Linked DNA regions of Homo sapiens: region 1 is linked to region 2. Evidence: fine-mapped expression QTL. A gene starts in region 2. The other region holds a variant in brackets. All regions are shown on one strand. Distances are between the middles of the regions. Region 1 overlaps FAM163A (family with sequence similarity 163 member A). Region 2 holds the start of FAM163A (family with sequence similarity 163 member A).

The links. PIP is the estimated chance that this variant, and not a neighbour inherited with it, causes the effect.
Region 1: its variant is fine-mapped to the expression of FAM163A in cerebral cortex (GTEx, PIP above 0.99).

What each region holds. Positions count from the first base shown.
Region 1 is chr1:179,761,430-179,766,804 of GRCh38, forward strand. The region is part of intron 1 of FAM163A (family with sequence similarity 163 member A); the gene reads left to right. Among named protein-coding and RNA genes, the nearest start is that of FAM163A, 21 kb to the left of the region's middle. The variant A/G (reference allele first, on the strand shown) is at 2,629.
Region 2 is chr1:179,740,583-179,745,957 of GRCh38, forward strand. FAM163A (family with sequence similarity 163 member A) reads left to right here and starts at 2,709. Exons shown (of 5, transcript NM_173509.3): 1 at 2,709-2,841. LOC128071543 (a long non-coding RNA gene) reads left to right here. Exons shown (of 2, transcript NR_138090.2): 2 at 1,773-2,115. RefSeq lists an enhancer at 4,006-4,698.

The DNA.
Region 1 (5,375 bases), 21 kb after region 2:
GGACTGCAAGCGAGACTAATTCATTAAGTGCTTTCAGTCCCGAAGATGACAGGAGCCAGGAAAGCATAAAGTCTTGTTACTACGACAGCCGGTAGCCTTGATGTCTGTGTCTTTATTTATTAACTGGACTTTATGTATCCATCCTCCCAGAAGCTCCAAGAGCTTCCCAGCTGACTTTGATACAGATCACATTCTCAAAATAGTATAGTCCATCAGTCAGAATAAAGACAGGGCCGGCTCAACGAAGGATTGAAACTCCAAGAACACTGTCCTAAGAGGCAAAATGAATGTGGGAGAGAATGTTGACTGGGGTCGGTGAGGTGTTAGGATAATCGAGTATTGAGCAGCAAACTGGATTTTTGGGTCACTTCCTTTAAGCTAATAATGATTGAATGCCTTTTTTTTTTGCATCAGCTATTGAGTATAGCTCTAAACACATTCTTCCCTTTTACCTCACAGCAGTTCTGGGAGGAATTATTCCCATTTTAGAGCTGTTGAAACGGAGACTCAGAGAGAAGGAATTGCTGGTGAATCACAGAGCTTGTGTTTTAACATCGTTTCTGCACTGAACACCCCCCACTCCTCCACTTCCCTACTGAAAGGGTGCTGCTTAACGGCCAGGAATTTTAAAGCTTGGAAAATGTCCCATTGATTTTGGCAGGAAGCAGATACCAAATGCTCTTGTTGAATGGATGGATGGATGAATGGACAAAAGAAAGAATGATTTTAAAAGGTCATATAATCGTATCAAGGCAGGGAGAGATAATCATGTTAGAAACCTATCTCATAGATAGCTGCTACAAATGAATGTGGCAAGAATTCAATGGTTCTTTCTGTTTTCTACCCAAGATTTATAAGTAGATGCCTGTAATGGGAGTAAACATCAGGAGAGTCTTTTTTCCAGGGCTGCAGAGAATTGGGATCATGCTGGGTATGTGGGTCAGTCAGTCCTGTCACGGTTTGGGAGAGGAGAGGTGTTCACCTGGTTGCGCTCCTATGCACAAGGCTAGATGTCTGCTGTTTTCATTTGCAGATTGCTTACAAGGTCCTTCCCTGTCCTAGCAATTTGCCTGCCTCACCCATGGTCTAGGGACACAGAGGAGAAGGAGGCCCAAATGGCACAGCTTCTTGGGGCACATTTGAGGGAAATGCTTTCTTTTTTTATTCAAGATTATATCAAGTGAAGAGCTGGTTTTCACCAACTTCAGGAATGCTCAAGATGGGTTATTGGGTCAGCAAATAGACACTGAGGGAGGCTTCGGCTCACATCTCTTAGCTCCTTAGTCATCCTCCTTGCTGTGCAAGAAAAGGCTTGAATATACCTTCTTCCAGCTCTGCATTAGCCAGCAAGGGGAATGAGGCCATTGTGAACACACACTGTGGGGGCCTAGGAGAGAAATACTTCAGGCGACATGATGATGGTCCTTATCTTCCAGGAGTTCCCAGGGTAGGGGAGGAAAAAATAATTTTCCTTCTGCTTTTCAGAGTTCATAGCTGGGACTCTCTGTAACAAAAGACAAATCGACAGGAGAAAAACAAATAGAAATTTGTCAACATGTATACTTCATCTCTACATGGGAGATACTTAGGGAAAAAATAAGTAAATCTCAAAGAGGCAGCTTAGAATTCAGGCTTAAACACCATCTTCAGCTAAAGGCAAAAGAAAGAAGGGTGTGGGGGAGGCCAGTTATGGGGAGATGACCAGGCAAATTATCAGAATAAAGTCTGTTATGCAGATGTAAGCCTGCTCCATTAGTAAGACCTTCTCGTGATTTAGCCATGCTTCTCTTCCTGCTACAGACACCCTTACAAATGGTGATTTCCTTTATAGATGTAACTTTCCCTTACAAAAGGGTAACTTCTACTCTCTTTTCAGAGCTTCTCCTGTATCTGTTGTTTCTCAAAATAATCAGCTCAAAATCATCCTTATGCCAAAGAGGCATATTTTGGCATGGCACGTTCTGGTCTCCTACAACAGCTTCCTTGGACAGAGAATATGCACTGACTGTAGCATTACAGAGCAGTGCCATCGAAATAATTGTAAAAAACTTGTTGTGAGCAAAGGGGCTGAAAAACACCAGACTGGCTAGTTTCTTCTGAAAAATGAAGGCAGCTGGGATGCACTCTGCTTTTTCCTACTTTCCTGCTCTAAGGATGTGTAATTCTTTAATCAGAAGTCTAATAAGGTTAATCAGGAAAGACCTGAAGATTTAGCTGATTTCTGAGAAAGGGCATAGGAGACTTTGGAGGACTATAAGCTCAGCCTGAGAGGAGACACAGGGTTTCTGGTGGTAGGTTATAGCAAGTCCCATTTTACAGATGCAGAAACTGAAGGCCAGACCTCCTCCCCAAAATGGCAGAGAAATCCTAATGCTTGGACTTGTGCAATGGGTACAAGACAAGTGCCTTCCCTTGGCTGAGGAGAGTTTCTCTCCTAGAGGACTTAGCTGGGTGTGTGGAGGAGTCTGAATTCCTCCCCTTGAATTCCTTCCACTGCTTCTTTGCCAGTCCCATCCAACTCGGATGGGGAACTGCTTTTAAATATTATTTCTCAAAGACTACACACACACAAAGAGAGACAGAGAGAGAGAGTGCATGCTCTTTGTATTTTATTTGGGGAATCATAAC[A/G]ACTCTCAGGTGAAATAGAGAGCTGAACCAATCAAGCACTCTTCCCAGGGCTCAAAAGAAACAAGTGTCACAGAACTGGCTGGCAGCACTGCAGAAAATAGATGATGGGAACACCTGTGTGGGTGTGGGTGACCTTGACAAGGGAAACACTAGCCAGTATTTTTATCTGCCCACTTTGTCTCAGGACGTTGGTGGTGTTGCATCCACTAGCAACAGGCTCTGGTTTATTCTCATGACATCTGGGCAGAAGGGGCGGGAACGACGAGGCAGATAAGAATATACCCATTTTGAGGAACAGAGAAACTGAGCCATGATTGGGGAGTGAAGCTTGTTCAAAGTCTCGTGGATAGACTTTGGGGTTCTTCAAATGGAAACAGGTTGTGCAACCTCTCATTCAGTGCTCCAGCAGCTCAAATTCTGTACTCTCAAAGATTTCCTATTAAATTTAATTTACTTTCCTTCTGTTACCCTTCCATGGTAGATGAGGTATTGATAGGGTAATCAACTTGTCAAGGACTCTCCCCATTTTATGACTAAAAGTTTGAAATCCACAGAATCCCCTCGGTCCTCGGCAAACCAGGATGGTTGTTCGCCCTAGAGGTATGTAACTGCTTCAGAGAAACGGCTGTTGGGGGAGAGCATTTCTGGAGGTGGTCTCACATGTTCGTTAAGAGCATGGGCTCTGGGCACATGCTAGGGTACAAGTCCCAGCTCTGCAACACATCCCTGTCACCTGGGGCAAATCACTTGACCTCTCTGTGCCTCAGTTGCCTCATTTGTAAAAAGGGGGTAGTGACAATCTGTACCTCAGGAGGTTGCTGTGTGAATTATATAAAGCCATACGTGAAATGCTCTTTTACTTAAAATAGTGCCTGTCTTATAAGAAGAGCTCAGTAATTGTTAGCCATGATTACTTTGTCAGCATCTGCCTGTTGATGAATCACAGAGATCGCGGGATCTCAGAACTGATGGGCTGCCTCCTTAGATTTCATCTCAGTGCCCCCCAATTTAAATGCACTCCACACGTTGTAGCAACCCCCTTCCTCGTCCACCTCTTCCCTTTCTTCCTCGCCCCATGGCTGCCGCTGGTGGAGGCTGGTTTGCTCTGTGTCAAAGTGGATGTCACCCCACTTCACTTGTTGGCAGGATTGAGGGATGGCAGGCGGGTGGGATGTGATCTCCAAGTGCAGTACTCTCAGACTTGAACATGCACACACAGCACCTGGGCATCTTGTTAAATTTTGTTAAATGTGGATTCTGATTCAGCAGGTCTGAGGTGGGGCCCACAATTTTGCATTTCTAATAAGCTCCCAAAGATACTGCCGGTTTGGGACCACTCCATGGGCCACAAACATGTGGCCAGGCCACATCATGTGTCAGCCTGTGGGAGTCTAAGTAAAAGACGGTAATATTCTTGCCCAGCTGAGGACCCTAAAATAGAATTAGTGCTGGGGACAGGGGTGGGAGTTGCTTAGATATGCTTAGAGTGTTTGAGGGGAGCAGCTTAGAGAGTGGTGAAGCCATCGGGGCATGAAAGGTCTGTGGGGCTGATGCTGAGATCTGTGGTGAGTATTGTAGGTAAAGTTAATAACAACTGGTTAAGGAATTGAGCTTTGGGAATTTTTTTTTTTTTTTTTTTTTTGCTGATTTTAAATATCAGAGCTGGTTCGAGACTATTGCTTAGATAGTCTTTCTCTCTCACATCCATGGTTTTGCTCTCTTGAATGGTGGACAAAGGGTGTAGTGCCCCCCAGTGCCTGGGAATGACACATGGTCAGTGTGACTACAGGAGGTTCAGAATGGCTGGCCTGAAATGACAGAAGTCCCCAAAGCTGGGCCTCCAGGCTCCCTACCCAAAAACTCCCTCACAGAGAGTGACCTTGCCTAGGAGGGATCTGATACTTTCTCAGCCACCTTGGAAGGGCTCTTACAGCTCCATGATGGATGAATGGACAAAACTGTCCCAAACAATCTGGGTTCCAGAAATAAGCCTTGTTCAGGCTCAGAAAACAATACCCCAAGATGAAGGCCTCAGAAGCACAAGTTTTTCTCTGACTTTCCCCTACATTCCTGTCTCTCAGTCCCATTTTGCCCCAAGTCCAGCCATAGGAACTAGAATCTCTCTTCCCCAAGACAGGTCATAGAAACCAGAACCCCTTTTCCCCAAAGCCAACTATGAAACCTAAAAATATTAACCTAACTTGCCCTCCGCTTTCCCATAAAGAAATTATCTGACCCACCTTGTTTGACTGTAGGTCATGAGACCCCCCATTCCAGAGAGGGCCCTGCTCCACACCCAGAGGAAGGACTTCATGCTCAGAGGGGCCAAGAAGAATCCAGACCCACAGGCCTGGCTGGGTTTCCCCACTCAGTCTATTCACATTAGATCAGACCCTTTGTGTCCAATCATATTTCTACACAGCTGCCCATACTTTGTTGAACCTAAGCGTAAAAATGAACAATTTCCCCTTGTATCTTTGGGTCTTCATTCTGAAGGCTCCCAGATACACATGTTAAATAAATGTGTATGCCTTTCCTCCAATTAATCTGCCTTTTTCGAGTTGATTTTTCAGTGAAACTTCAGAGAACCAAAGGGAACTTTCTCCTTACACCCCACAGCATAGACAGAACTTTCTCTTTACACCCAATGGCCCCTCACATTTGAGATGCACTTCACTCCTTTTTACTTTTCTTTCTTTTTTTTTTTTCGGTTTGGAGACGTAGTTTTACTCTTGTCGCCCAGGCTG
Region 2 (5,375 bases):
GGTTGCTGCGTGGGAAAAAATTCAAAAGGTTACATATATTGATACGAAAGGATACAAATGATTTCATTTAAATAACATTCTTGAAATCACAAAATGTACCATTTTACATTTTGGAAATGGGAAACAGGTAAGTGGTTTCAAGAGATTAGAGATGGGGAAGGATGCACAGGGGAAACAGGTGTGGCTACGAAAGGGCAATATGAGGGATCTTGCGGTGGTGGAAATGTTGTGTATCTTGACTGTGTCAATGTCAATATCCTAATTATGATATTTTACTATAGTTTTTGCAAGATATTACCAATGAGGGAAACTGGGTGAAGGGTACTTGCAATCTCTCTGTATTATTTCTTACAATTGCCTACAAATCTACAATTATCTCAAAATGAAAGTTCTAATTTAAAAAGCGACTCTTGATCAAAAGATACCATTAAATGAGTAGAAGATACTTGCAGTCTCTAACTGACCAAGGCATGGTAGCAGCTAGACTTTATAAACAGCTTTTATGAATCAATAAGAAAAAGTCAGCTCAAAAAAATGGGCAAACATTTGAACAGGCACTCAGAAAACAGAAAACTCAAGTAGCCTATAAACATATGTAGAAGTGCCCAATTTCATTGGTAATTAGGGATATGAAACGAAGATCACAGTGAGACACCATTACATCTCCGCCAGACTGGCAAAACATAAGAAGTCTAATAATATTATATTTTGGCAAGGATGCGGAGCAATGGCAATTACCGTACATCTCTGATGGGAGTCTAAATTTTGTGGCCACTTTGGAAAACAATTTGGCATGATCTAATAAAACTAAATATATGCATACCCTATAGTCCAGTAATTTCACCCCAAGGTATACATCCTAAAGATTGCACTTGCATACCAGGAGATATACACAAAAATGTCATTAGCAATAGCACTTGTAATAGCCCCAATGGGAAAAACCCAAATATCTAAAGTGCCAGAATGGACAAAGAAATTGTGATATGTCCATACAAGGGAATATTAAGTAGCAATGAAAATGAATGAACTACAACTACATGCCACAAAAGTAGATGACTCTTACAACCAAATGGAAGAAGAGGCCAGGCACACACAAAAATATGCATGCAATATTATTCAATTTATAGAAAGTTCAAAACCAAGCAAAACTAAACTGTAGTGGTTAGGGATACATTACAAATTGGTAGAAACTATAAAGATACGTAAGGAAGTAATTACCATAAAGTCAGGATAGTTGCTTTAGGGGGAAGGGAAGGACTTGTGGAAGGGAATTGGTGGAGCAGGGGAACCTCTGGGGTGGTAGCAATGACCTGGGTGGTGTTTGGTTTATGATTCATTAGGCTATGAAGGTACGTTGTTTTCACTTTTCTGTGTTACAGTTTATAACAAAATCACACGTCCTCTTCATATTTCATTGTTTTGCCTTTGAGATGAGGAAGAATGTAGGCACGAGCCTTAACTGTGCTGAGAAAAGACGGCACATGAAAATCTGAGCTCAAAATGTAAAACCTGTGAGTAGAGTTAGAGTAAAAAGTGGAGTGTGCTGCAACAACAGTAGACTTGCTGGAATGATGAGGTGGTGGCTTGCCTTGGGATTTTTGTTTTTTAACAGTGTATTAGGAATAATAAGGTTGCTCCAGGTGCTAAATTTCTTACTCCCCTTCTTTAGAAGTTGGACCTAGGCTGAGGGTCCACAGTTTTTAAATGTTTTGGAGTTTTCTGTTTTTGTTTTTCAAATGGATTCCCTGATCACCTTTGCCTTGAATCCCCAGAACTAACCTGCCTAAGAAGAGAGGAAAACTGTTGATGTAGTGGGAACGCTCCCTCCTCGAGCATTAACCGGGTTGACCCCACCCCTCTGTCCTCGCTGTCTTCAGTCCAATCAAGATCGGAAAGCAGGATCAAGAGAAAGATGATCAGACCGGAACAGGTAAACGTTCCATATAGAGATGCTTCGGAAGTGCGGAGAAGTGACAGCTTATCCCCTCTCAGGCCGTCATGTTCTCTCAGCAGACCCTCTGAATTACTGATGTCAGAACTTATTGGCTGGGCTACAGCACATAAGCAACTCCTAGAGTTTTAAGACATTAAAAGAAGGTGATTTCAGACAAGAAATCTAGCGCACCATTCAGGTTTCTCCTCGTGTCGAGGCATTGCTTCTCTCCCTTCCTGCCTCTTCCTGCCAGACTTCACCGTCACAGCTCTAATCACACCCTGACTGATCTGATCCCGCCCTGCCACGAGGCCCGGGTACCCCTCAGCGGCGGGGACATCCAGGTGTCCCTGGATTTCCAGGGCACAGTGCGGGCCGGAAATAGGAACACAGAGGAGCCCTTCGGGAGGCTCTCGAGGCAGTCTCTTTCCAGTGGATAGCGACACACCCTGGTCCCTAAGATTCTCATGCTCTCCGAATTTTCCGTCCTGGACCCGATCTGTAGGGCGCAAAGTCCCCTGTACTGAGGCGTTCCCAGGGCGCCCGCCTCCCGCGTTTACATTTCTTAGGCAAAAAGGCAGCGGAGCTAAGCAGGGGTGTTTGGAAGGCGCCCGTTGCGCTGTTTGACTGCGTGGCTTCACTTGGCCCGCGTGCATCAGCCTCTCTGGCGGGGGATTCTCCCCGGACTCCGGCCAGCGCCAATCAGGTCGCGCGGTACCTGCCCCCAGCCCTGGCCACCTGGAGGGGCGATGAGGCTCCACGCCCGGAGCAGGGCAGTCCTCGGAGCGCCGGGGAGGCCGCGGAGCCTCACGTGTGCCGCCCCAGCCGCTGGCGCCCGGAAGGACGCGCTGCGACCCCGTGGGAGCCGAACGCGGGAGTCGCTGCCCGAGCGGAGCTGCTCAGCCGCGGTAACGGGTCGGGGCCTCATCGTGCAGGGGAGCGAGCGGAGGGGCGGGGCGGGGCGCGGGCGGGCTGAGGAGCCGCCGGGCTCGGGCTCCGCGCGGGGATGTGTCTGGCCACCGCGTACTTTCGAGGGCGCCTCAACACCCGGGTAAGCGCGCCCCGGCTGCCTCCCTCTGCCCACCGCGCCGCCTTCAGCGTAGCAGTTCCCCACTGGGTCTGGGTCTGCGCCCTGGCTCTCCCTCTCCGCGCCAGGGGCCTCTCGCTCCGAGGGGCGCGGCGACTCGGGGGCATCTCCGGCCTCGTGGCCAGACCGCGGGTGGCGGTGCTCGCGCCTCGGGGCCGGACTTGCCGGGTCCCTGCCCCCGGGCCGTGCCGAAGGCGCTCTACTCAGCGTGTCTGCAGCGACCCGCTTCTCTGCGCTTTCAGCCGGGCCGGACCTCACGCGGACGCCGCTGCTGCTGCTGCGCCTCGCGCCCGCCGCCACCCGGGGAGCATGAGGCCGGGGCAGGGGACCCGGGTAGGGTGGGGGCCGACCGGCGGGGTCTGCTGGGCCAATGCGCCGCCGTCGGTCAGTGAGTCCGGATTCGTGCCGGCAACTGTGGGCAGCCTTGAGACCGGGGCTCGGTTTGCTGGTGATTTTTCCGAAGTTTTACAAAATAAAGAGGGCGAAGTGCCTTCGCGGCGCGGCGTGGGCATGCAGGCGGCAGGGCCTGTGGGAGCCGGCGTCTCGGCCAGCGAGTCTGGGGCCAGGACAGCGGGGGTAGGACGGAGAAGCCGGACGTGCCCGTGGGGCCGCGGTGTCCTTGCTCCCGAGGCCCCAGAGCGGGCGACCGCACTCCGATTCCAGAGGGCCCTGCGCGCTCAAGGCGCCGGCCACACGGAAGCCTCCGCCCCGCGGCCCAGAGGGGGGCCTGGCCAAGCAGAGAGCAGAGCGGGCAAGCAGAAGGCAGTGTGGGGACGAGGCCCGCATTGGGCTGCTGGGACCCCGCCACCCGGCCTGGCCTGGGTGGGGCGGGTAGAGGCCGAGAGCCGCGCGCCGGGGCCCTGGGTGGGTGGCATCCTGGTTCTCTGCGGCTCCGAAGGCCGCGAGGGAAGTCAGGGGTGCAGATCTGTTCCCTCGGTCAGCGCCCTTTGGCCGACACACACCAGCCGTGTTTTCCTGTCACACTGGGGGTTCCTTTCCTCTGAGTGGAACTGTGGGGCCCTGGAAGTTTGCTAGTCCTGGCAAGTTTGACGTGACGGGGACGCAGTCATCCAACCTGCAGGCGGAGGCCCGCAGGCACTTTCTCCTGTCATTTCGCCCACCTGGGCCCTCCCCCAGGGCGCCCAGGGGGCCCCATCCTGAGATTCCGAGGGGGCCGCAGCGTGGCTGGCAGGACCGACGTCTGCGCAGTTGCGTCTGTGTCCTGCTTGGTCCTCTAGCAGCTGAGCCAGACACATGTTTTATGTCGTGTGGGAGACAAACAATAACTGCGGGCTTCAATCCCGCATGTTCGCTTTGCCTAAGATTCGCTGGAGTCTGTGTCCTGAGGGGAAAGGCAGCTTTCCTTCTGCCCTAATGAAATACTTGCATGTAACAGACGTTCAGACCCTGAAAGAGGTGGACCCCGGGGAAGGAACAGTAAAGGTACATGCTCTGAAAACAGATTTTCTTAGCCTTCTCTAGGGAGGTTTCAGTTCCCATGCCTAAGAGAATCTAAACCAGCAGGTACAGACAGGGTCATGCTGGCGTCCAGAGGGGAAGTAATGTGTGGCTCTCGGAGGGTCCTGCTGGGGCATCAGGCAGATCGGCAGCGGCCCTGCCAGGGCTAGAGATCTGCATTCAGTGACCTCATCAGGCATACTGTTCTGGAAAGGCAAGGTGAGATGGGCTCGTGCAGATGAGAGCAGGTCCCCCTGTTTGGCCCAAGAATCTCTGTTTTTTCTCTAGCTTGCCGTCTGTAACTGGAAATGACCCCGGCTTAGTTCAGGGAGTGCTTCAGCCTGAGTGCAAACATCAGCTGGTAACAGGGGAGCCTGGCCCCAGCACAGTCCAGTCCTCACCCAGAGGCCCACGCTGGGATTTTCCTGATCTGCAAACTTTACAAGGCTGAGGTGGATGAGAGGAGAAGTTGGGAATCTTCTGGGTGGCCACTTAACAAAAAAGTCATTTGACTCTGGTAGGGCCATTCCAGGGTCTGTCCATTGTGAAAAGTGCCCTGGGGTTTAGAATCTGGCCTGGTGATTATTAACATTAATGAAAGTTGCTAACATTTATTAAGTACCTGCTATGTGCCAGACACAAGGTTTTGCAAAATTACTATTATTTCCCCATTTTTCGTGTGATGAAACTGAGTTTGGGGGTAGGGTAAACGATTTGCCAAGATCATAAAGCTAGTTAATGGCAGAGCAGAGCTTGAAGCCCAGGTCTCTTTGGTTCCAAAGTCACTACTCCTTCCTCGGGGCCACTTTCTTCCAATTAAGAACAGACACACATGTGGTAGCTGGAAATCCAGAATTGTCGTGAATAAAGACTCTTACTTGTAGATCCAAGAGATAT